2 separate regions of the Homo sapiens genome follow, and region 2 is linked to region 1. Evidence: fine-mapped expression QTL. A gene starts in region 1. The other region holds a variant in brackets. All regions are shown on one strand. Distances are from middle to middle. Region 1 holds the start of KIRREL3-AS1 (KIRREL3 antisense RNA 1). Region 2 overlaps KIRREL3 (kirre like nephrin family adhesion molecule 3).

What was found. PIP is the estimated chance that this variant, and not a neighbour inherited with it, causes the effect.
Region 2: its variant is fine-mapped to the expression of KIRREL3-AS1 in breast (GTEx, PIP 0.96).

Annotation. Positions count from the first base shown.
Region 1 is chr11:126,538,881-126,550,436 of GRCh38, reverse strand. It overlaps KIRREL3-AS1 (KIRREL3 antisense RNA 1), which reads right to left and starts at 6,610. Exons shown (of 2, transcript NR_174952.1): 1 at 6,193-6,610. The region is part of intron 2 of KIRREL3 (kirre like nephrin family adhesion molecule 3); the gene reads left to right. RefSeq lists enhancers at 5,961-6,465, 6,466-6,972.
Region 2 is chr11:126,593,903-126,605,458 of GRCh38, reverse strand. All of the region lies in intron 1 of KIRREL3 (kirre like nephrin family adhesion molecule 3), which reads left to right. The region is part of intron 1 of KIRREL3-AS1 (KIRREL3 antisense RNA 1); the gene reads right to left. Among named protein-coding and RNA genes, the nearest start is that of KIRREL3-AS4, 53 kb to the left of the region's middle. RefSeq lists an enhancer at 2,850-3,627. The variant A/G (reference allele first, on the strand shown) is at 5,796.

The DNA.
Region 1 (11,556 bases):
GACCTCGGGTGATCCACCCGCCTCAGCCTCCCAAAGTGCTGGGATTACAGGCGTGCGACTAATATTCTTAACGTAACCCTGTGGCTTAGGAGTAGGAGAAATCTAGATTCAAATCCCGGGTGTAGTCAGGGCAGGCTTAGACCCCTATCATTACAGATTCTCCAGGCCAGAAGGGACCAAAGGTCATCTGGTTCCATATCCCTGCCAAGTACCAGTGTGTGTAAAGACTGTGAACACGGCGGAATGCTCATTTATTCACCAACCATGTGTCCAGTACCCGCTCTGTGCCTGGCGCTGTGCATGTAAAAACACAGTCCCTGCCCCCAAGGATACCACTGTCTTGCGGGGAGAGACAAACACGTCAGCAACTACAATACAATGTCGCAGTTGCGGTAACCGGGTATGAATAAGTAGCTATTGGAAACAGAGAAGGAGAATCCAATCACACTGTAGGCCAGGAGAGGAGTGTCCAGCATGGCTTCTGGAGAAATAAGCCCTGTGAGATGTTTTATTCTAAGAGGCTGTTGCAACCTATGCTTGAATCCCTCCAAAGACAAGAAACTTGCAGCCTGCCGAGGCGGTGGGCAGCTCCTCAGCCAGGCTCTCCAAACGCCACACCGCTTCCACCCCAGGAGGCTGCAGTTTTCGCATTCTAGCTTTACTGATGACGAGGGGACCCAGTGACTTGGACAGCAGCCACTGGCAAGATCCTGGGGTCTCCACTATGTCAACTGCACCGGGGAGGCCTCCTTTCTTCTCTCTGCTTCTTCCTTCCATCCCCAGCCAGCCTCAAAGGCTTCATCACAGAATTCTTTGAGTGCTGAGACCCTCCCCCAGCCCTCTCCCCAGGGTCTGAAGAAAGCCCCAGAGAAGTTGGAATAAACGAAGGCGCTTAATGGCTTGCGGTGCCATAAAGTTTTTAGAGCCGTGCGCTGGAATGAGCAGGTTCAGGCTGAGATGAATTATCCAGGGCTTTTATCAAAGGGAGTCAATAAAAACCTGAAGGAGCTTGCCCCACCTCCACAGAGTGCTCATGTCACAGTGCCGGGCCCTGTGCTCTGGAAGTAGGAACCAGGGGGCCGCGTTTTCCCCCTAACTCCATCTGCTTTCTTCCCTGTGCCTTCCTTTCTGAAATGTATTCGTTTCTATGGAAACTGTGTTGTTACTGGTATGGGAGGAGTTTAATGACATTCAGAAGTGCCAAATCAAGTCCATTTATATAACGGTTTGAAATACACATAATGGCCTATGGAATATAGGACACGGTGACAGTTTCAGTAACTGTGTACCGAGTGTGGGACAAATAGAGCAATGGAATAGTCCCCATCTCCGAGTCAAATGCACTAGGAATAACCACTATTCTTAGTACTAAAGAGCAGCACTTCTCAACCATTATTCATAAAAGGATCTCAAAACACAACACTAACCTGTTCTCAGCTCATAGAGAAAGGACCCTGGACCTCAGCTCCTCTGTGCCTGCCAAGGTTTGACTAAACATTAGGTGGGGAAGGTACAGAGGTGTGAGTGTGGCTGTGGATGCTTCCAGATGTGGAAGGGAGCAGGTATTCTATCTCGTTGCTCCCAGGACCCACCCACGTGGTGAGCCCACTGACGTCATTGCCTTGATTGACAGTCACCCCTGCGCTGTTCCTATGGCTCATTTCTGCTGGATTCAGAGATTCATCAGCACCCACTGTGTACGCAGAGATGAATGACACCTGGAGGATGCCCTTATCTTACCTCAGGTTCCCCTGGAAGCAGGCCCTAAGCAAGAGCGCTAGTGTAGTCATTCCTCATGAAGGTGCAGAGGTGCCAGCGGGAGGGTTGGAAATTGACATGGGAAAGGAGGCATCGGCATGGGGGGACCCCAAACCTGCTACCACTATGGGCAGCCAGAGCCCAGTCCCAGTAAGAAACTCTGAGAAGTGCTATTGAACACCACCTCACAGCTAGGGCACCCAAGCGGTGGGGTATTTCTGCACCAGCTCCTGTAGGGCATGGGTGGAGTGCTGCTGGGTGAGGGTGTTGTCTCCCAGCAGGTCTGGCCTGCTCTGTGTGAGGGCACAGTGGCCTCCGCAACTAAAGAGAAAGCCCTCAAGAGAAGGGGTCCAGACACCGGCAATGGGAGGTTGGCCTGAAGACGCGGGATGGTCGGGCCTGCAGATACAAGTGGGCACTGAGAGAGTCAGCAGCAGCCTGCAGAGAACTTCAGGTCCATTGGGGAGATGGGCATATAATAAAATGGCAGAAGGCAGGGCGATGGGAGAACTAAAGAGAGGTACAGATGACAGGCTCGTGGAGGACTGGAGGTGGGAAGCTATTTGTTCTGACTGAGGGGCTCCAAAAAAGCAGGGGAAGAGAGATGGAGCTGACACACAAAGACGAGGGCCAAGGAGGGTACTTTTGCACACTTGCACCATCTAATCCTCACCACGTCACAAAGTGGGTAGTGTTATCCACATTCTGAGGAGGAAGAAACAGAGGCTCAGACAGATTAGATCATCACCTAAAGGCACACAGATGTTAGAGTAAGCCAGCTGAACGCCAAAGCCTGGCCTTCTTACTTCCACCCTGCCTCGGGAGCTTTGTGTCTGGGCGACGAGGATAGGGTGACTTCCCCACCATCGTCCAGGGCAGACTTGACTAAGCCCCTATTGTGGGTCCCTGTTGATTTTTCCCCATGGCCAAGGACTGCCGTCCCCAAATCTCCCACCATTCACTGACCACAGACCCCCCACTCCGCCACTCAGGCGGCCCCTCTGATCCTGCCCCAGATATGGGCTGGGCTGACTGTGCCTAATATTGAGTGAATTTTCTGCACTGCCCAGAGGGAAAGAGAGGACACAGCCTGAGGAGGGGAGCTTCAGCTCTAGTAGTCCCCAGCAGTGGGTCCCCTACCCCGTCCTTACCCCTGCACGCTCCTCTCCCAGCCACGCTCTAATCCTCACTGCCTCCAAACACACGGGGGAGGAGGGATCACGCGTACACACAGGCAGCATTTCTGTAGCATGTTAATAGGTTTTCCGTCAGATGCAGCCTTCGTGATTAGACACGGTGGGGAGAAGCTACATGAGACCTAACAAAATGAGAGTCTTTCCTGCAGAACTTCTCAGAGACACTAATACACCAAAGGCCATGGTAAGCCACCCAAAGGGGATATGACTCACAGAGTTCCCAAACTCATTTGACCACAAAACATTTTTCCTGCAGCATGTGTCAGGACTAGTGGTCCCTGAAATCCACTTTGGGAAATAATGTTTTAGAGCCCAGATCTGCCACTAACTGGTTGTGTGAGCTTTGTCAAACAAGAGTAAATCATACCTGCCTTGTGGGGACCCACCAAGTAACATGGGTGAACACTCTTTATAAACTTGTAAAATACTATACAGATTATTTATTTGTGTGAAGCAAACACACTCAGTGTCCCAGAGAACCTTTCCTTGGAGGTCAAACAAACAAATAACAATAATAATGTTTTTTAAAAATTAGTTCTGTTCCTGTCTCAGTATATGACTTTGACCTTGATCTCTCTTGACCTCTATGTTCTCATCTGCGAAATGGGTATACTCATGATGCTAGCCCTCTTTCCTCCACGCATTTGTTGTAAGGAGAAAATATGCATCACGATTGCGTGATGCTTTGAAAAAAAGTATAAAGCACCACAGGATGCAAGGCTTTATTATCAGAGATCCGGGTTAATAGCCCCAATTCAGTCCCATTTGTGCTGAGATCAAGACAAAAGGTGTGCTGGGGAGGGAAGGGGCTAGTGAGATAAATAAAAATGACTAATAGTCTTCATCCATATTTATGATGTTAGGAGACTTGCATGAGCATGTCACCGAGGAGAGAAAATGAATATTTTATGAGTGAATGCTGAATGTTGTATTAAGATGAAATGGACAGAAAGCGGCCCGCTTGCTTCTGCCCCCAGGTTGTGCTGGGGAGGTCAGCACAGGCTCTGTGCCTGGTCTCCAAGGAGCAGGGGCAGCTCATCAGGAAGGATGAGGTCAGTCTCCCAGCACAGATTGGGAGCTGTCCAGGGTGGACTGGTGGCAGCAACCTTGCCCTGGGAGGTAGGAGAACTAAGACCCCATTCCATCTACCAGCTGGGAAGCCTTGGGCAAGTTACCATAACCTCACTGGGCCTCCATTTCCCACTGTAAAATGAGAAGATCAACCCTGAACAATTGTGAGGTCTAAATCCAAGCTCAGCTGTTTGGAGGAGGGTTTTGTAATGCACACAAGTGGGAAGTGTTATTATTCATGGATACATTCAACATTTATTGAACATCTACTATGTGCCAATCACTGCCACAGCCCCTTATTTATCATATATCCTGTGTGCCAAACACCACAGTCATTACTTTACACACATCACTTCATTTAATCATCACCAGAATCTTGAGAGGTATCTATTATCACTCACATTTTCCACATAAAGAAAATGAAACTTAGGAAAGACAAATAACTTGCCCAAAGCCACACAGCTAGGAAATAGCAGAGCCCAGGACTGTATGAAGCCAAAACCCTGAGTTCTACATTAAATGGCCCTTGCCTCAGGTACTTCTGCAGCGCCAGTGGGGGCCCTGCCCTGCAACCCTTGAAAGCTCTTCCCTGTTCTGCTCATGCTCTGTGCTTCCTACCACCAATGCCCTCCAGAACCAGAAGAGAAAGCCTTGCCACCTTCTGTCTGGGCCCTCATGATATCCTCCTTTATTCTCCAACCCTGCTCCCTTCCTTCTCCCTGAAGGCCTGTTCTCCATAATGCAGTCATCCAGGAGTTCTTTATTTTATTTATTTTATTTTATTTTATTTTATTTTATTTTTAAAAATTGAGACAGGGTCTCACATGTTGTCAGGCTGGTCTCGAACTCCTGGGCTCAAGCAATCCTCCCTCAATGGCCTTCCAAAGTGCTGGGATTACAGGCGTGGGCCACCGTGCCTGGCCCAGGGACTCTAATTTCCATCCCTATTCATCTCTTATCCCAGGCAGGCATCAGGTGGTATAAAGACTGAACACCTCCCACCCCTGAAAGCAGCAAGGACAGATGGGGCAGTGCAGGGTGAAGCTCAGCCATGTCTCCCCGATCCAGATAGATATCTCTGGAGGCAAAGACGGCTCCCCTTGGTGCCAGCTCAAAGCTCCTGGCTCACTCCCGTCCACCACACAGCACGAGGACACCACTATCTCTGCAAATCTCTTCCCTATAGGGCAGTTTCATGTTATCTTGGCTCATTCCTTCTCCCGAGATGAAGAGATTGTTTTAAACCTGCCGCCCCACCAGTTCTGCTCTTGGCTTCCAATGCCATTAAGTTTCATTATAACAAATAAACACCACAATGACATTTATAAGTTATCACTGAGCACAGAAGCACAAATATGAAGCAGATAAACTGCATTTGATCCAAATAATTACTGCAGGCAATATTGGGCTTAGTCTGAGCTGGCAGCCGGGTACCAAGTAATTTATTAGATTGCGTAAGGCAATGTTGCACGTTGAGTTTTTCATTATTGTGTCTTCTCCCCTCTCTGTGGCCTAAATAGGTTAGAGGAGTTTAGACAGTGCATGGCCAAACAAAGACAGACTTTGCTCAAGCAGATTAAGGCCAGGAATGTCGGCCAAGTGTCCAGGAATGGCTGCTTCCCAGGCAGCAACGGACTTGCAAGAGAAGAAAGGGCTTAGGCGATTATCTTGATGCTGCCAACCAAGGACAGCTCCCTGCACTCTCCACCCACTGGCCCAGATACAAAAAGCAGCCCCGTGGAGGGAGTAAATAAATGACAGGGCCCATTTGCTGTCCTGCATGGAGCCCCCAGGACACCGACTCTGGGTTCCTGCTGCAGACTCTCAGCCAAAGACCCTCTATGGAAAGTCCCTTCCATAGCCCCAGGTAGCCCCGGGCAGTCCCACCCCCAGTCCCAGACCTATCATCCTGCAATAAATCAAGGGAAGGAAGCAGTCTGCCAGCCAACTCTGCAAAACAAAGAGAAGAGAACTGGCTGCAAGCAGCTGCCTCCCTGCCAAACCCAAACTCATAAAGTTTGATTCAAGGGGTTACAATACCTCCCATTCAGAATCCCTCCTGCCCCGTTCTTCCAGCCTTAGTAAATTACCCAATAAGCAGCAAGGACCTGCAGTTATTGTGCAGTTAAATGGTATTTGCCCCGTAAATTCTGAGCAGAGTACTAACCGTGATATACAGTAACTAATTACAGACATGAATGCTCTCCCCAAGATGCCGCATGTTACCAAATATCGTTGCGTTTAGGAGAGGGGGGTTGAAAGCTGCTCTCTTCTCTCCAGTGAAGCCATGAGTAACTCTCTTATTAGAGGAGCTGTCGCCACCTCCAGGGGCACTCCATGCTGGAAAATAGAGTTGTCCTGGGGAGCAGACAGGAGTGGGGCCACATGCCCATGTGCTGCCCCCTGACCCCGTGCCCCAGCAGAAGGGCCTAGCAGGTACCGGCTGGTCCTCCTTGGGTCATCTCACAACAAATAAGTGGCTCAGCACCACGGTGGCAGTGGCAAAGACCCAAGGCTCCAGCAGGGCAGGAAATGGAAGTCATTATTCACCCAGCCCAAGGCCGAGCAGAGAGAGCTATGGCTAGGGATCGGCCTTTGCAAAGGGCTTCTGAATAAGGCCACACAGGATTAGGATTAAAAGTGGTGCCAACGACTTTTGCCCTGAAGTATTGGTGACAGAGCTGATCTCAGCCCCAAGGGCACCATGGGAGAGGTTTCCGTGGTCTTCAGGAAGGGCAGGGGCTGTCCTATCGGCTTCCCATCAGCTTTATAGCTGTTTTTGGAGCTCAGCTGGGGGCAGGTAGGGGGCACAGTAGTGAGTCTCTGCTTTCTGAAGAGGAAACCACACAGATCAAACACCCTCTGCTGACCGGCTACTGTTGGGGGAAAAAAAGCCAGGCCTGGAGTCAAATGGCTCAAACCCTACCTCTACCACACCCTGTGACCCTGGATGTGTTAGTTAACCTCTCTGAGTTTCCTTGTCCGTAAAATGGGAAAGATTTTCTATTTCTCAGGATGGTGGATATGAGCCAGGGCTACACCTGCTTCTAAGGAGTTCTGTCCTGCTGGAAAAGCAGAAAGCTTCCCCTCCTAGGCTGGGCGTCTCCGGCAGTCCTCACACTCCCTCTCCATCCTTTCAAGGGGCTTCCAGCACAAAACCTCTCCTTGAAACATCTCTACTTCCAACAATCAGAGAGACTAGGGCAGTAATGGCAAGTTAGTTTTGCTTCGTTCTCTTTGATTGATGCAGACCAGCTGAGGCTTTGCAGGGCCTCTGTTTGGGGGGTGACAGGAGAGGCAGAGTGGAGTAGAATAGGGCAGAATTGGGAGGGTATATTCACGGGGGACATCTGGCTTGGAGCTGTGATATTCAAGTCTCTACATGGGGGCTGATGATGGGACCTGCTCCACGGGGTGCTATGAAGGTGGATTAGGTAAGATAATGTATGTGAAGTGCTTTGTATCGGAGTTAGTTGTGGTTAATATCCCAAACCCACCAGAAGACGGCCCACAATCCCAGGGCAGTGAGAAGTATCACTTTTTTAATTAGGACACATATATAGTCAGCACTCAAGTATCTGTTGGCAAATTGTCCCCATTCCTGGCAAATGCTATCACCAAGTTTGCTTAATGAAGTCCTCTGTTAACATTTCACAGCTTCTTATTTTACTCTTATTTGCATAAGGTCCAAAGGGAATAAAAGTCCTTTAAAGGCAAAATCTGTTAATATCCCCCTCCCTTCCTAGATAAGGTGTGAGCCATAAAGACAGGAGATGGGGAAGGTGGGGTGCACCTGACTGTAGCTTTGGGCCAGTCCCAGAGGTGATGTTCTCCCCTCAGCTGAGTAGGAGGCAGAGAGGGAGCCCCACCCTTGGGTTGAGTGTTTTTTTTAAGTATGAAAAATTCCTAGAACATCAAACATATCCATATTCAAATGTGAATATCAAAATGCATTCCAAAGTCGAAAATGAATGTTACTTAGGATTATTCACTGTTTTGGATTGTCCATCATTCTAGATTATACACACCCTGCTCTTCTCCACTAACAAAGATAATTAAGAGTTGATTGTATTTGGTCTCCAAGAGGGGAGAAACCCAGGACGTTGCCCCAAGATGGTCTGTGTCCAGTTGGGAACAACTCCAGGAACCATGAGAAGACTCCTCTATAAGCACCAGGTCTGAGCTGTGATTCTCCATGCAGGCTCAGAGAGCAAGACCAAGGCACCTCGTGCTTCAGACCAGCCTGCCTGAGTCACTCAGTGCACGCCGGGTGGGCCTGCTTTCACACCGTCAGTGGGATATAGCCACGTGGTCCTTCACAGGACACCTGAAGAGCATCAAAACTGCACAGGGCCTTTGGAATCCTTGAGCATTGCACAGAGGGTCCTGAGGGCCCGCTGCAGGGCTGCCGAGGGCAGGACTCGGTCCTTCCCGCGCTGCCTCAGCTCTGCCTCCACCGTTTTATACACTGGGATTCCCTGTGAGACTTCACTGACAAAAAGGGTTGCATGAACTTTCAAAAGGTGTGAAAATGCCTTCACTGTGCAGTGGGAACATCAATGCGCACCCCGAGAGAGAGACAGCCACTTAATCAAGGCCACCCAGTGACAGAGCCTGAACTAGAAATAACCCAGGCCCACAAGCCCGTGCTGTGGGCACACAACAGTGCCCTTAGGATGTGGCCCAGAAACCGCCTGCAGAAGGATGACCCAGAAGCTATTAAAATGCAGATTCCTTGACCCAGCTCAGAGCCACTATCCCAGAATCTCTGAGTTGGAGCCCAGGAAACTGTTATTTTTAGCCAGTCCCCCAGGTGATCCTCATGCACATGGAAGTTTTAGAACCGTCTCTGACTGACAAGGCTATAGCAGCATAAATGATTATTTTGTTTACTTTTTTTAATGTTTAGGATATAGATCTGAGCCCCCAAAAGGCCAAGTGTCCTTGAGAGACTTGCTTTCACTTCTTTGCACCTTGATTTTATTATTTTCAACCTTAGGACCACCCCCCACCCCCGAAATAGGATTTTGGATAAGTTAGAACATCAAGCATTAGGGTTGGGAGGAAGGCGCTTAAACCTTGCATTTTACAGATAAGGCATCTGAGTCTTAGTTAAAGAGTCAGGCCCAAGGGCACACAGCTAAGAGGTGGCAGAGGCAGCATCAACTGGTACCTTCTGGGCCCAGGACAAGGACAAAGCTTCATGTGTCCATACAGTACCCCTTAGACATGGGAGCAAGAGGTGCTGGGCATCTTGGAGTCAGCCAATCCATGACCTAGCCTCCAGCCTCTCCTGGTGGTGCCCACGCTGACGCCCTCTGAGAGGGGTTGATGGGCACTCTGTCTGCTGTAGCCGAGCCTGCCCATAGCCGAGCCTGCAGCTCCCTCTTGAGCTAATGGCATAGTTCCATCCCTGCCCCTTAGTGCCACTCTCTTCCTTCCATGCTGCTCCAACACATCCCAAGGTGCCGGCTCAGTGAGGGCACATTCCAGTCAGAAGACACAAGAGCCTGAGACTCAGAGAAGAAAGGGGGCTTAGCCAGGGTCCCATGGCTGGCCAGCAACAGGCCTGAGACCACAGCCAGGGTCTCTGCTTCATGCGCTGTCGAGCATCTCCCATCTCCACTCCCCCACCATAAACCCACTCTGCTATGCCCGTCCTGTCTCATTTAGACCTCCAGGTGACCTCGGGCAGGGATGGATGGGCTCTGCCATGGGCACTGAAGAGCCCATATTTCCAGCAGCACTTATCAGTGTCTTCGTGGCATCCAGGCCTTGGCTGGATCGATGGAAGAATCCCTCTCCCTGCCACTAATGAGTACAGTGCAGGCTTTGGCAGGGGCCGCGAGCCTGATCATCAGTAGGCAAAGGATTTATAGTGACTTTGGACTCACCCTGCCTCGGCCAGCCCGATTGCTCTTCGTTAAAGACCCACACTGTCCAGGACAACCTTGGTGGATTTTGTGTCCTGGGAGAGAAGTGCGAGGCTGGGAGAATCACAGGCTGCCCACACTGGCTCAGCCCGGGTGAGGAACAAGCATAGGGGAATGTGCCCTCAGACTTTCCACCCCCTCATCCAGCCCTGGGAAGAGCAGTCAGCCTCTTTTTTGTAAGTCCAAGTAAAATTCTAGTGCAATTTCTGTAATGTTCATGAGACTGGCAAGCTTCTCCTTACGTGTGTATCAGAATCAAGCTACCAATGGCTGCAGGTGGCGATGCTGGGATGGAAAGTGTTTCTTTGTCTCTCTCCCAGTAGAAATCAAGGAGAAACAGACAATAGAGAAAAGGCCCTGTCTTCTACCCCTGCCTGGTTCTTCTGGCTTCTCTGTTTATATTTCCAATCCCAGTCTAAAGGGAGAAGATTAGGTTAGATGATCTCTTGCCATCCCGATATGGTTCAAAACCTGTGCAAACCTCAACAAGATTTAGATGTTTCACCCAAGGCAGCTACTCCCAACACTCCCAGACTGGAGTAACCTTGTCCCTCTTAGATAGTCACAACAACATCTATAACTTTCCATATTTGGAGTTGAATTATCAGGTCAACACCAAGTGAGAGGACACCTGAAAATACTTCTCCTACTGCCTGACCCATAGGTAGTGCTCAGTCAGTGTGAGTTCTTCACACCTCCTTCCCAGCTCCAGAACCATTGACCCAACTACATCTGGGACAGCATCACCTGGGGGATTCTGGACCCCTCTCCATCAACACATTTAAAACTGAACTCACTGCCTCACCTCAAGCGCGCTTCTCCTCCTGAGCAGCAAATGGCTCCTCCATCATCCATTCACACTTTCATCTTCCTCATCCCTGGTCAAGTACTATCAGTTCTACCCCCAAATGGCTCCTAAATCCATTTCTTCTTTCCATTGATGCAGCGTTAGCCTGAGTCCTCATGACAGCAAAACCTTGCTGATCAGTCTCCCTGTCTTCAGATTATCCTCCTTCATTCATCCTCCTCCCTGTCATCACCGTGATATTTCTAAAACTCAGATCTGAGCATGTGGGTCAAAAACCTTTGATGACTTCTCATGAAGTACAAACTTCTTGGCACACGTTCAAGGGCCCACACGGTCTGACCCACCAGGACTTTCTAGATTTGCGCTGTACTAAGAGAGTCTGCACACACATGCTCCGTGCACCCAGCCTGCTAGGCTTGTAATGATACTGCCAGCTGCCATTATGGAAGGCAGGCAGGGCTCTGTGCACATCACAGAGAATGACCTATTTCATTCTCACAAACAACTCAACAAGTATTGATTGCTAAACCAATGGGGAAACTGAGGCTCAGAGGGACTAAGCAATTTGCCCAGGGACCCACAGCCATAATGGCAGGGTCAGAGATCAAGCCTAGACCATGTGGCACTGCTGCTTTTATTCCATGAACACATCTGTTCTCCACACTTGACGTAAGCTGTTCCCCATTCCAGGGAACATTCCCACCTTGTCTTCATCCTGGCCATTTCAGAAGCCAACCCTTCTGTGACTCCTTCTTTGGGACTTTGTGCCTCACTCTGACGCTTATGGTGT
Region 2 (11,556 bases), 55 kb before region 1:
GAGCCCCCACACCACTTCACAGCAGTCACCGCAGGACTCCTCCCCCTGAGCCTCAAATCCCAGACCCAAGTGGCCTGAGACCTGGAGACCATGGGTGCTCCATTGCTCCCACTCCCGACGCCTGAAGATGAAGCTGCTCACTGGGACCCTGATCCTCTACATTAAGTGCAGCACATTATACCTGCCTGGAATCCTGGCAGTGACTAAGGAGGCACCAACTGCAAATGTGACTTGGTAAGATCCCAGGAGTCGGTCCCTAGATATAGTTATCCATGGGGCCCCAACCTGCTGCAGATGGGAGAGCAGGGAATCCAGGAGAAAAGCCAAGAGCGTGGGAGGAGCCAAGGAGAAAGGGCAGGGCCAAGAAAGGCCACACCCTCACCAGGCTCGATGCATTGTCTGTGATTATGGGTCTTTGTTGAGGTGAAGGAAGCAGTAATAATAATCTCATCTGCCACTTTGCAATTTACAATGCACTTTTACATATGCCGTTTCATTTGCTCCTCCTAAGTGTGCTATGAGGGAGATAGCATCAGCCTGATTTCTCTTTTGTCCCCATGAGGAGAGGGGGCTTGGGGTTAAATAATTCTGCTGTGAGGCTCTGTGAAGTTAGCAGGTTGCAGCTCTGGGGTGAGTCTAGCGTTGCTTCTCTGAGTCACCTCCTTTCGAAGACCTCCTCTTTTATTGTGTTCCAAACATGGACACCTGGCAAAGCTCAGACACGCTTGTTTAGAAGTGGGCCATTCTGCGCAGCCTCAGACCCCCTGCTGTGTGCACCATGGCTCCAGGCAGTGTGCTGTGAACACCCACCCACCCCCATGTGGCCCACAGGACACACCTGTAAGCCAACGGATCAGAACCCTCCAGCTGTAGAGGCAGCAGAGGATTTAGAGTGGCCAAGAAGGACTGTACTAACACTAACTGCGAACGGCCTGGTCCTCAGTTTCCCTGTCTGGACAGTGAATTTCTCTGTAGGGCTGTGGTGAAGACTAAATGAGATATGGTATACACATTATCTTGTACAAGCCTGGCACATGGTACATGTTCAACAAATGGCAGCTCTTACTGTTCTTATTAAAGAATGCTAGACAAAAATGCAATGCAGCCAGTATGTATGGAATACTCAGTTTCATCCTAGCTTAGGAACAGAATGCCTCAGACCTTCAGGGTGGTCTTCCTGCCCATTCCCACGTGTACACTCACCCCTGTCAGCTCTGCGTCCTCGTTTTCGGTTCAGAAATACAGTGGTCATAATACTGGACACCCGGAGGAGATAGCACAAGGACAGAAGCTATTGCTTATTCATCTTTGATTTCCACAGCCTAGCATCGGGCCTCATGTGAAGGATTATCAGTAAATATTACTGAATGGATAGAAGGGAGGGAGGAAGGATAAAAGGAAGAAAGGAAAGCAGGAAGGAAGGAAGGAAGTCAACTGAAAAGTGAATGGATAACGTGAATTATGGCATTCTTTGGCTGATTGGCCATCTCAAAACAGATCCTGGTTCCTCTTAAAGATGGGACCATGATGTTGATCTCCAGCCTCGGGGCTAGTGGGAGGAGGGGGGGCTATTTGGGGAGACATGGGTAAAAAGCCTTGTATCGGGGAACACGAGTTCTCTCTCCACTCCCTGGCTTCTCCCATACATCCCTTCCCATCAGAAACCCTGGTCAATCCGGAGCTACCAGCATCCCAGGGCCAGGTGAGGCAACAGCCCCAGCACACCTGCCCAGGATATGGCTGCTGCGCACCAGGCAGGGCCCAGAGAAACATGCAGCCATGTGCTGCCAGAGAGCAGATGCAGCAGCGCTGGGCACTGAGGCGTGGCTCCAGCACAGCTGCTCAGGGGGCCAAGACCCAAGCATGTTCCTCCCAGTTCAGCATGTCTGCAGAGACAGGGTCAGGAGGTGAGGACCAGACAGGGGCCAGCCATTGAGGTTTCTGTGTGCCCCCTCTCCCCTTCTGTGGCCCTCCCTGCTTAGTCAAGGCCCCCATATCCTTGGTGCCATCTGCAGCTGCCCCAGTCCTACCCTGTCCTGCCCATGATGCCCTCATTCCTGAGGCTCCCAGGCAGCTTCTGCCCCCTCATTCATTGGGAATGAGGGTTCTCATCACAGCGGAGGGAGGTATTTCTCCCCAAACGAGTTGCTGTGAGATGATGCCAGGAGGGCACCGAGGCTGGCATGAGCCCCCACTTGCCTGCCCATCGGTATTCAATGGGAATTTATTGTTTTAATCAAAGTACTATGCTAAACAGGGAGTCCTGGGATCCTTGCCCTGGCATGGGGCCCAGCAGCTCCAGGAATCTGTAGGGGCATCTCTAAATAACAGTCCACAGAACACACAGTGGATTGATTCTTTTTTGGAGTGTGGCAGACCCCTCCCCTGCAGGGTGACGGTGGGTGAACTTGGAGGAGCATGTTCTAGGGTTCCTTGGTCTGAGCTAGGAGAGAGAGCGTCTCCTATTGGTCTCTATGCCTCAGTCAGGCCTCCAATCATTACTTCTTGAGACCTCTGTAGCTATTAGCTGAGTTGGACAGGCCTACCTGCCCCTTGCCCTGCTGTGCTTTCCTGAGCTGACCCTACCATGGCCTTAAACTTTTCCAGAGCAGCTCATGAAAAGCTCCTCCCTTCTTACCTGTCCTCCCAGCCCCGCGAACTGCCCCCGACAGAACAGCAAGCTCAAGCCCAGGGCAGAGGGGTTTATCAAGGCCGTGGTGCCAAGGTCTCAGTAAGTATCATAAATTGGAAGCCTGGCCCAGGTGATGCGGATCCACAGCTGGGGCAGGGCTTCAACCACGGGGCCACATGCCTGCCTTTCTGTGATGGGACTGTGACAGACGGGAGAGATCAGAGGCGTTCAAGCCAAAGGGAGGCAGGTCCCAGTTATGTCACTTCCTAGCTGTGTGACCTCAGGCAGAGCACTTGACCTCTCTGGGCCTCTCCCTCATCTGTCAGGGGAGGATGACAGCACAGGATGGTTGTGAGGATCAAGTGAGATAAAGTATATAGACTTGCATAAACGACGACGAGGCACCGGACAAAGGCAGGTTGCTATTACTATGGCTTCTGGGGCCCAGGTGGAAAGGGCAGAGGACCAGAGGCCAGACTTCTGGGAGAAGAGCTAGAAAGCTCAGTCCCTGTAGATAACCCCACACACCACAGGCTCCATAACCCCAAGACCCAAAAAGCCCCCAGGGCTGTGGCCTCCCTGCTGGAGCCACCTCTGACAGTGAGCACACAATGAGCTCCCTTCTTCAGAGCAGCCAGAGTAGGCTTTCATCAAAAGGCAAAACAGAAACGCTGCCAGGGCTGACCTCTTTGCCACCGCTCCTGGGGAAAGACTTTGTTTTGCGAGAAAGGAGGGGGCTACTCCTCCTCTCAGTAAACAAACTCGGCCATTCAATTAGTTCCTGCGAGGTGTTGATCATGCCACGGGAAAAGGCCGCAGCCCCTGCCTCGCAGCGGTCAGCTTCTGTGACTCTGTCAGGCAAATCAAAGAGGCGGCCTCAGGTGACCTTGTTTCATCTCAAACACACACAGGACCCCTTGTCTCCTAAAACTCATGCTGTCCCGTATGCACGGTTCTCAGGCCAAGACCTCCACCTTTAGTCCAGTCCTTAAAAACGGGAGATGGCACGAGGGAATGGAGCTCCTAGAAATGGACGCGGCAGGGGATGGAATTCAGGGGGATGAAACTCCAAATAGGCGTCCAGGAATGTAGGCGGGGTGGGCGAATGGCACCGCAGGATGCATGAGAAGAATGGAGGAGGGGCGGCAAGTGGGCAGAGGGGGCCAGGACACTGTGAGGCCTCCTTTCTCTGGTTCTCTCAGGTGCCATAAGGAGAAAACCTGGCGGAGTGTTGAGGTAGAAGACTTCTGTTTACAGCCATCTATCTCCCATAATTAGCCATTTAGGAAGAAAATAGCCTTCAAATTCAAAGGTAAATTGACTTACATTGGGATAATAACGTTTGATTGAGCACGGGAAGTTCATCTTTAGAGTATGAGAGCAAACAAATTGCTTTTCTTCCCTGGTGCTTGGAAAGAAACAAGATGAGATTGCAGGTGCTCCCAGAGCTGTGTTCCCATCGCCTCAGGGCATTAGCAGGCCCAGGGCTGAGCTGCAAAACCCAAGATGCCCACGGCTGCCGCTCAGTCTCTCTGCCAGTTGTTTTCTGATCCTTGTTCTGGAGGGTTTTAAAATTATATTGCATCACATTGATGCAGCAATCAGTTATTATTGTCAACAAGAGCATGAAGAGACATAAATTCTCTCCCTTAGATAGAGGCTGGTTCATAAATACATTTCTTTATTGCTTCCTAGATTGGAAAGATTGCTCTGTGCTTTGGCTTCCTGGAACATCGGGGGGCTGGGAGGACGGGGGACAAAGGGTTTTAAATTTCGCTTCTGACTAAGATTGTGAAATCCTGGGTAATTTCCTGAAAAGGTCACTGGATGCTGACCTTCCTGGGGTAGGAGATCCGTGGAGGGGTGAGAGAGAGAAGGGAATATGCAAATAACTAAAATAGAATGCTCTGATATGGACAAAACTGATGGGTGACTGGGAGAGGGAACAGTAACCCTAACTGAAGAAGTCAGGGTCTTTTTTCCCAGAGGAGGAAAGTTTAAGCCAAGCTTTGAAAGATGAGACATGGAAGTGAATGATCAAAGGTGTATAAGGAGCCCTTCCTTGAATACTTTGGATTCTGGCAAAAATTCAAATTTTACTTATATTCCTAGTAGAAACCAGGAATCATCTCATTGGAGCTCTATTTCAGCTATGTCTTTCTTCCATTTTTTCTGATCATGTATGTTTGGAGTAAGAGTAAAGGGATTTGCACCACCCATAGATTTGAGTGTTGGAGTGGGGTGGTTGGTGGAGTTGGGTGGTGCACATGCACAACCCAAGTGGCTAGCTCGTGGGTATGAAAGGTTTAAGGACCTAGAGTTTAAATACAGAGGAACAAGGCAAGAAACACATTTCTTCTTAGCTAATAAGGACCTAGATTAGTTATTTCTTGCTGTATTAAAATTAGCAGTTTAAGACAACAGACATTTATTACCTCTAAATATATGTGGGTCAAGAATCTGGGCACAGCTTAGATGGGCCCTCTGCTTCAAGGTCTCTCCCAAGGCTGCAATCAAGATGTAAGTCAGGGCTTTACCATCTCAAGGCTTACCTGGGGCAGGGTTGGCTTCCAAGCTCACTCACATGCTTGTCAGTTGGATTCAATTCCTTGTAGGCTGTTGGATTGAGAGCCTCATTTGCCCACTGGATACTGGCTACAGGCTACACTCAAGTTCTTGCCACATGGGCCTCTCCAATATAGCAGCTTTCTTCATCAAAGCAAGCATCTGAGAAGGAGAGACAGAGAGAAAAAGAGAGAGCCAACAGGACAGAACACGCAAACTAGTCTTTTATAACTTAACTAGAGAGGTGATAGCCCATCACTCTCGCTGTGTTCTATTGGTTAGAAGCAAGTCACCAGGTCTAGCCCATACTCAAGGGAAGGGAGCACACAGGGGTCTGAAAACCAGGAGGCAGGAGTAATTGGCAAGCTGCCCACCATGGGACCTTGGCTGTCAAGTTAAGTCCCCTGATGCTAGTCTAAGAAAATGGAAACCAGCTGGGGTCAAGTCAGGAACAGAGCCCTGGTCTTCTGGCTCTTTCTCCAGGGCCCTTCAACCACAGTGAAGGTTACACATCAGAGGGTCATTACTGTATGGACCAGAGATGAGGGAGTTTCTGGAGAAGCCTGATTAGAGCTTCTATATGCAAGAGCTGTAAGCA[A/G]GTCCCCTTCAGAGGCTTGTGGGGATACCCGGTATCTTGGCTAGGCATGAGGAATGACAGACCCCTAGAGGCTTCCATTTGATGGAAAAGACAAATGGGCCCCTACTTTCTATGTGGGCCTCTATGTCTCTGACTCAGATCCAGCCACATGCCAGAAGAGAAAGGGGGTGAAGCAGAGACCCGCACAGGGGAGCTAGAGGAGTAAACAGCCCAGGAAGAGCTGGTCACCTTTTCATTTTAAGAGTTAAAGAGAACAGAGAAGAAGAAGAAAAGAGTCAGGCAATGGAATAGCAGGTGCAGCCGAAAGCGTGCCTGCCTCAGAGAGAGTCCATTAGGGGCCAAGACACCGAGCAGGGACAATGCGGCTGAGACAATGGAAGCAGCTGAAAAGCCGTGGAAATTGGGTGTGCAGACTCCTGCTTCTGGGATGTCTTAACAGATTAATAAGGCTTTTGAGGATTTCTAGAAACATTTATATGAGTCAGAGCCCTAAGAGGGGCCAATGTGGGGTTCTTTGAAGCTTCTCTTTTAGCAGCTTGAAACAGCAGATGTCTCTGCACCCAGCAAGGAGGGGTGAGGCCTGGGCAAGCCAGGAAAAGCTATTGTGTCTCTAGAAAATGGGAGCCCACAAGGGGACTTTATAACAGCCATTGAAGTCGGAAGGCAGGCACATTTCTTAGTTTGGGAACAATTATCTGGCCAAACAATGGGAGGGAGGCAGCCACTGCTCAGGCACAAAAACCACGTGATCTTCAGACTGGGGTTGAGAACATTCTAGGAAGCCTAAGAGTGAGCCCTACAGGTCAGAAGTAACGCTTGCAAGACAAAGCCAGAATTATTATTCCCACTGCAGAGGTAAGGAAACCGAAGCCCAGAAAAATTAAGTGACTTGCCCAAAGTCCCTCAGGAGTGAATGACAGAGTGGGCAATCAATGTGTATCAGTTTGGCATTCAACTGGGTGTAGCAGAGATCCAAAGTAAGTGGCATAAGCAAATTAGGGGTTTGCTTTTCTCTCACATAAAATGAAGACCAGGAGTAGATGGGCAGCCCATCCTTAGCACTGGCTTCCATTCTTGGGTCATACCTCATGGTCATAAAATGGCTGCTGAAGCTCCAGTCATCAGCCCCACATTTCAGGCAGGAAGAAGAAACAAGAGGAAAGGACAAAAGAGGTGCACCTCCCAGGTGAATCAGCCATCTTTAAAGAAGCCTACCAGTGATCTCTGAATATTCGCATCAATCACCTCTAGCTTCTTAAGGAAGGCTAGGAAATCCATATTTGGTTAACTTGGGTAACCTGCCACACCAACAATGAAAGTACTGTAATGGTAAATAAATGGGAGAATGTATATTAGGTAGGCAAATAGCACTCTTTGCCCCAAGACCCAAATTTCCTGAATCTAAATCCAAAATTCTTTCCACTTCCTACATGGCCTATTGCAAACATGAACAAAATGTGACACACACTACTGAGCACTTCCAACCCCTCTGACCCTAGCAAAGTCACTGAACGCTTCACCACTCAGAAAGTCCCGCTCTTCAGACATTGGCGTGAGCCAAGAACTCCAGGAAAATATTCTTGCGCCTGCTCATTAGCTATTGGCTGGTCCAAATCTCTTCTCTAGGAGGTGTGGTCCACTCTGCTCAAATTACCTCAAGTCTCTACTTCTCTTAGGGGTCTAAGCCAGGCACAGGTCTTTGCTCTCACTGTACAATCCTCATAGGATGCTATGGGTGACTTAAGTGGCTGCTGTGCTCTGTTTTAGACAGAACTGTACTTCCAAATGATACAGTACTGATCAAGGTAGGTAGAAAAGTGAAGACAGGAATGGGTGCAGAGGATGGTGACCAATTGCATACATTTTTGTTAATTCCTCAGCCATCAGGGGTAAGTTGCCACATTCTGCCCCATTGCTATCAACTTTTATTCCGTGTCAGGGACCACAAGGGCTCTGTTTTTCACTGGCACAGCAAACAAGAGGCTCCACAATCCTCTGTCGGGGAAGGCACTCGAGAGAACCTTGGGACCACTTGCCCTTTGAGACCGAAATAGTTTGGAGCTCCAAGTGGGAACTGTGAAGCTGACGGCAAAAGAATGTGACAGGGTTGTCCTTCCCACCAGCTTCCTCTTTCCCTGTTTCCAAATTTCTTCCTGTGACATTTCAAGTTACAAGGCTCCCATCTCAGAACTTTGACTTTGAATGTCTTTTCATATTGGCCTTAAAGAAGATGGTGTCGTCAGTGACCTTTTTAAAAGACCACGGGGACTTAATTAAAAACTAAACTTGGCCACTTAATTCAGATGGTCCTGTCGACTCCTCAGCACTGATGTGAACTCAGCCTTGTCAGCTTGCAGCGGGCTACTGGCACTGCCCTTTGGTGTCCCGACATTGCGGAGCTGCAGAGTGACAGGCGGGCTCTGGCCCAGGCTCCAGGACCAGCGAGGCTGCTCTTGACCAGAGAGGGCCCCCTGCCACAGAGAGCCAAGGGCTCTGATTGGGTGGGTAGTTCTGGGTAACTCGTGCTGGGAACGGCCCTCCAAAGGGAGAGAATGGAGACACAGGGATTTTGGTGATGGCTAGTGTAAATCAAGGGAATTTCTGAGAGGTCTGTCTGGCTACCACACTCCAAAATTCTCCTAGGTCCCTGTTTTCCTCTGAATGACTTTGTAAAGAGACTAGAGCCCATATAATGCCCCATCCTGCTTCCTCCTGCTGCTTTAAAGATTCTAGAAACTGGTAGATGGATCTGCAGACACTCATCCTTTAGGCCAGGAAACTGCAGCCCGGGCTCTGTCTCTCTTGCCCAAGGCTAGAGGCCATCAAACTCTTCTGGAAGACCAGGCTGGATGGTTGATTCAGTTCTTATTACCTTATTAATAGTTGCTTTCATTCCCCCTTCCTGGAAGAAGAAAGCTGGGCTCAAGATGCGTAGGTGAGCTGTGAAGAGCTTTGTGCTCCTAAGACAGAATGTAGAGCTCCACACAGAGATACCTCCTCCCCACTCCCGCATGCCTGCCAGAAGTCAGGGAGCAGAGTCACTTCCCAGAGAAAAACCATCTCTTCATTACCTAGCCACATCAGATCACTGTCAACTCAATGCAGCTAAGAAACATGGCAAGAACATATCTTGGCCCTGGGGCCGAGGTCATCACATTCCTACCTTCCCCCCTTCAGAAGGGACAGAGTATAGTGAAAGGAGACCTAGAGTCTGGCACTTCCCTCACTAACTGGCTGTGTGACATTGGGCATGTTACTTTACCTCTCTGGGCCTCACTACCACCTCTAAAAATAGGGCTAATAATTTGTGACTTATCTGCAGATGATGATCTTGTAGGTTTCCTTTCACTTACGTTTGTTTGACAATGTACTCAACATCTACCATATGCCAGGTGCTGTGTTAGATCTAAGGATGCGGCAGTGAACAGAACATTCTTGTTGGTTGCTCCATGGGCATGAACACTGGATGTCAGAACTCCTGGGACTTCATGGCAGGTGACTCTCGAGATTGGTGAACAGCCTATGGAGAAGGCAGCTCAGCCACCAGCCAGGCTCGTAGGGCTTTCCGTTGGGTTCACCAGAGCCTAGAACAGACAGATTTATCCTGGGAGACTTTCCTGCCTTCCTAGGGGCCAAGGGCTCCCCACCTGCTTGGAGACCTCAACCACTTTCCTCTGCTCCTAAGGGAGGAAACACAGCACCAGCCTATATTGTGACCCTTAATCATTGTTTATTACAATTCTTTATGACCATAGACACACACCAAAGAAAGCCTTTGAAAACCAGGTGCTGCTTATGCCAGCAGAGCTAGAGAAGGTTCTGGAAAGGATGTCCTGGCTGGCGTCTGTCACTGCTGGTCACCTGGAGGCTTTGTATGCCATCAGGGCTTGTCAGTTCTTGCTGTCCCCCATCGCTCCTAAGGGGGCGGTGTGGCCTGGCTGCAGGTGCCTTCTGGCCACTGGGTCTCCCTGGGAGAAAAAGAACTCATTCTAGTCCTATCTCTGCCACTGACTAGCTGTGTGGCCTTCCTTAGGCAAAGGACACAGTCCTGAGTCATAGCCACTGAGTCCTCAGTAAGATGATGCTCACAATGCATCCCTTACCGGTTGCTGTGAAATTAAATGAGATAATTCAGGTAAACACTTGGTAAACTAAAGAGGCTCAAATCAAGGCCAAGTTTAGGATGAGGAAGACCTTGATAAGGGAGAAATAGTCCAAGATCTGAGTCATCAGCTAAGACAGGAGCCACACAGAGCCCCCCAATCCTGGGCGATAAACCTGGGACAACTAGCCTGCTGGGCTCCACTTTGCCAAGGGCCCTGCCAGCTCCTACACTGCCCTCAGCTCCGGATCTCTGGAGCCAGGCTGGAGGGGAGGCTGACTGCATTTCTCCAGAGCCAGGCTGGAGAGGAGGCTGACTGCAGCTCCTTTGTCTGCCCAAAGTGGACATCCACCCTCTTCAGCCCCTCACCCGCCACCCCCTCCACAAGTGGGTTAAGAGCCTTGGAAAGAGAAAAGAAGGCCGGTGAAGTGGCTCTTGAGTGCTCTCAGCCGGGCTGACAGCCCTCAGGCCTTGTCACCATCCCCACAGCTGCATGGAAACAGTGCCACGGCAGCTGGGGGAGCTCTGTGCCCATCTTCAGGGCACGCTCAGGACGGGGTGCCCCACGCCTCACAACCCAGAAGGCCCCTGAGGGTCCGAGGGCCCAGGGCAGCTGCAAAGTGACTTTCACCAGGAGACATTGTTCCCCCTCCCAGGGGCGGAAGGCCAACTGGGGCAAAACGCTGAGAAGCACGTGGCGGAAATGCTAACAGAAAAGATCGAGCAGCTCCCAAATGCAGGTTCCATCGCTGAGGCTTCAGAATTTTATATGAGCTTTAGGAAAACAACCCCTTCTATGTTCTATTCAGTGTCTCTGCCTTTCTATGAGGACCTGCGGCTGGACAGAGGAGAGTTGGCCAGGAGCATGGGTTAGAGAATTTAAGAGCTGGCCTTAGAGATAGTTTCTGCTGCGGCCTCATTGCACTCTTAAAGGCACCACTCATGAGGCCTCTGAGGCCCAGCAAGGATAAATGACCGCCCAGACCCTCCAGCAGTTGAAGGCCCCATGCTATGTGGAAAGAAAGAAGGAAAAACGAGGCTAAAGGAATTCTAAAGTTACACAGCGAAAAAAGTGGAAGGAGCTGAGATTTGACAGTTTCCAGCGATTCCAAACTCATGTTCTTTCTCCTACACCCTGTAGCTTCTCCAAGAAGATTGGAGTCTAAAGGGCGCAGAGTTTCCTCGAGGAGCTTCTGGTCCAGTGAGGGAGATGGAATTCATCCAGGTAGAAAGGACCATAGCAACAACAAAAAAATCACAGTACGCCATGAATCCTGTGGCTCCGACCCAGCCCCCAGCCCTACCCTTCACCTTACTGTTAGTTTTCACCAGCTCCTCCATCCTTCCCTCCCTTCCTCTTCTGCCTGCCTTCTTCTCCAGGTAGATGAGTCCCACAGCTTACTTCAGATCTCAGGGCAGAACCTGTGACCAGGAGGGAGGGGTGGAGGATGGGAGGAGGATACACTGTGCCAATGGACAGAGGGAAGGGAGCCTGGGGATGTGATTTCTTTTCCCCAATAAAGCAGAAAGTGAAAGGCAGGAGTTTCTGCAAATGTCATCTCTTTGTTCTCTCTTTGTGATTTGTCATCTGCATCCACCACTGAGCAGAGTACAGACCTGGCCTTGCCCTCTGGGTGGAGGGGGACAGTTGTATTGCAC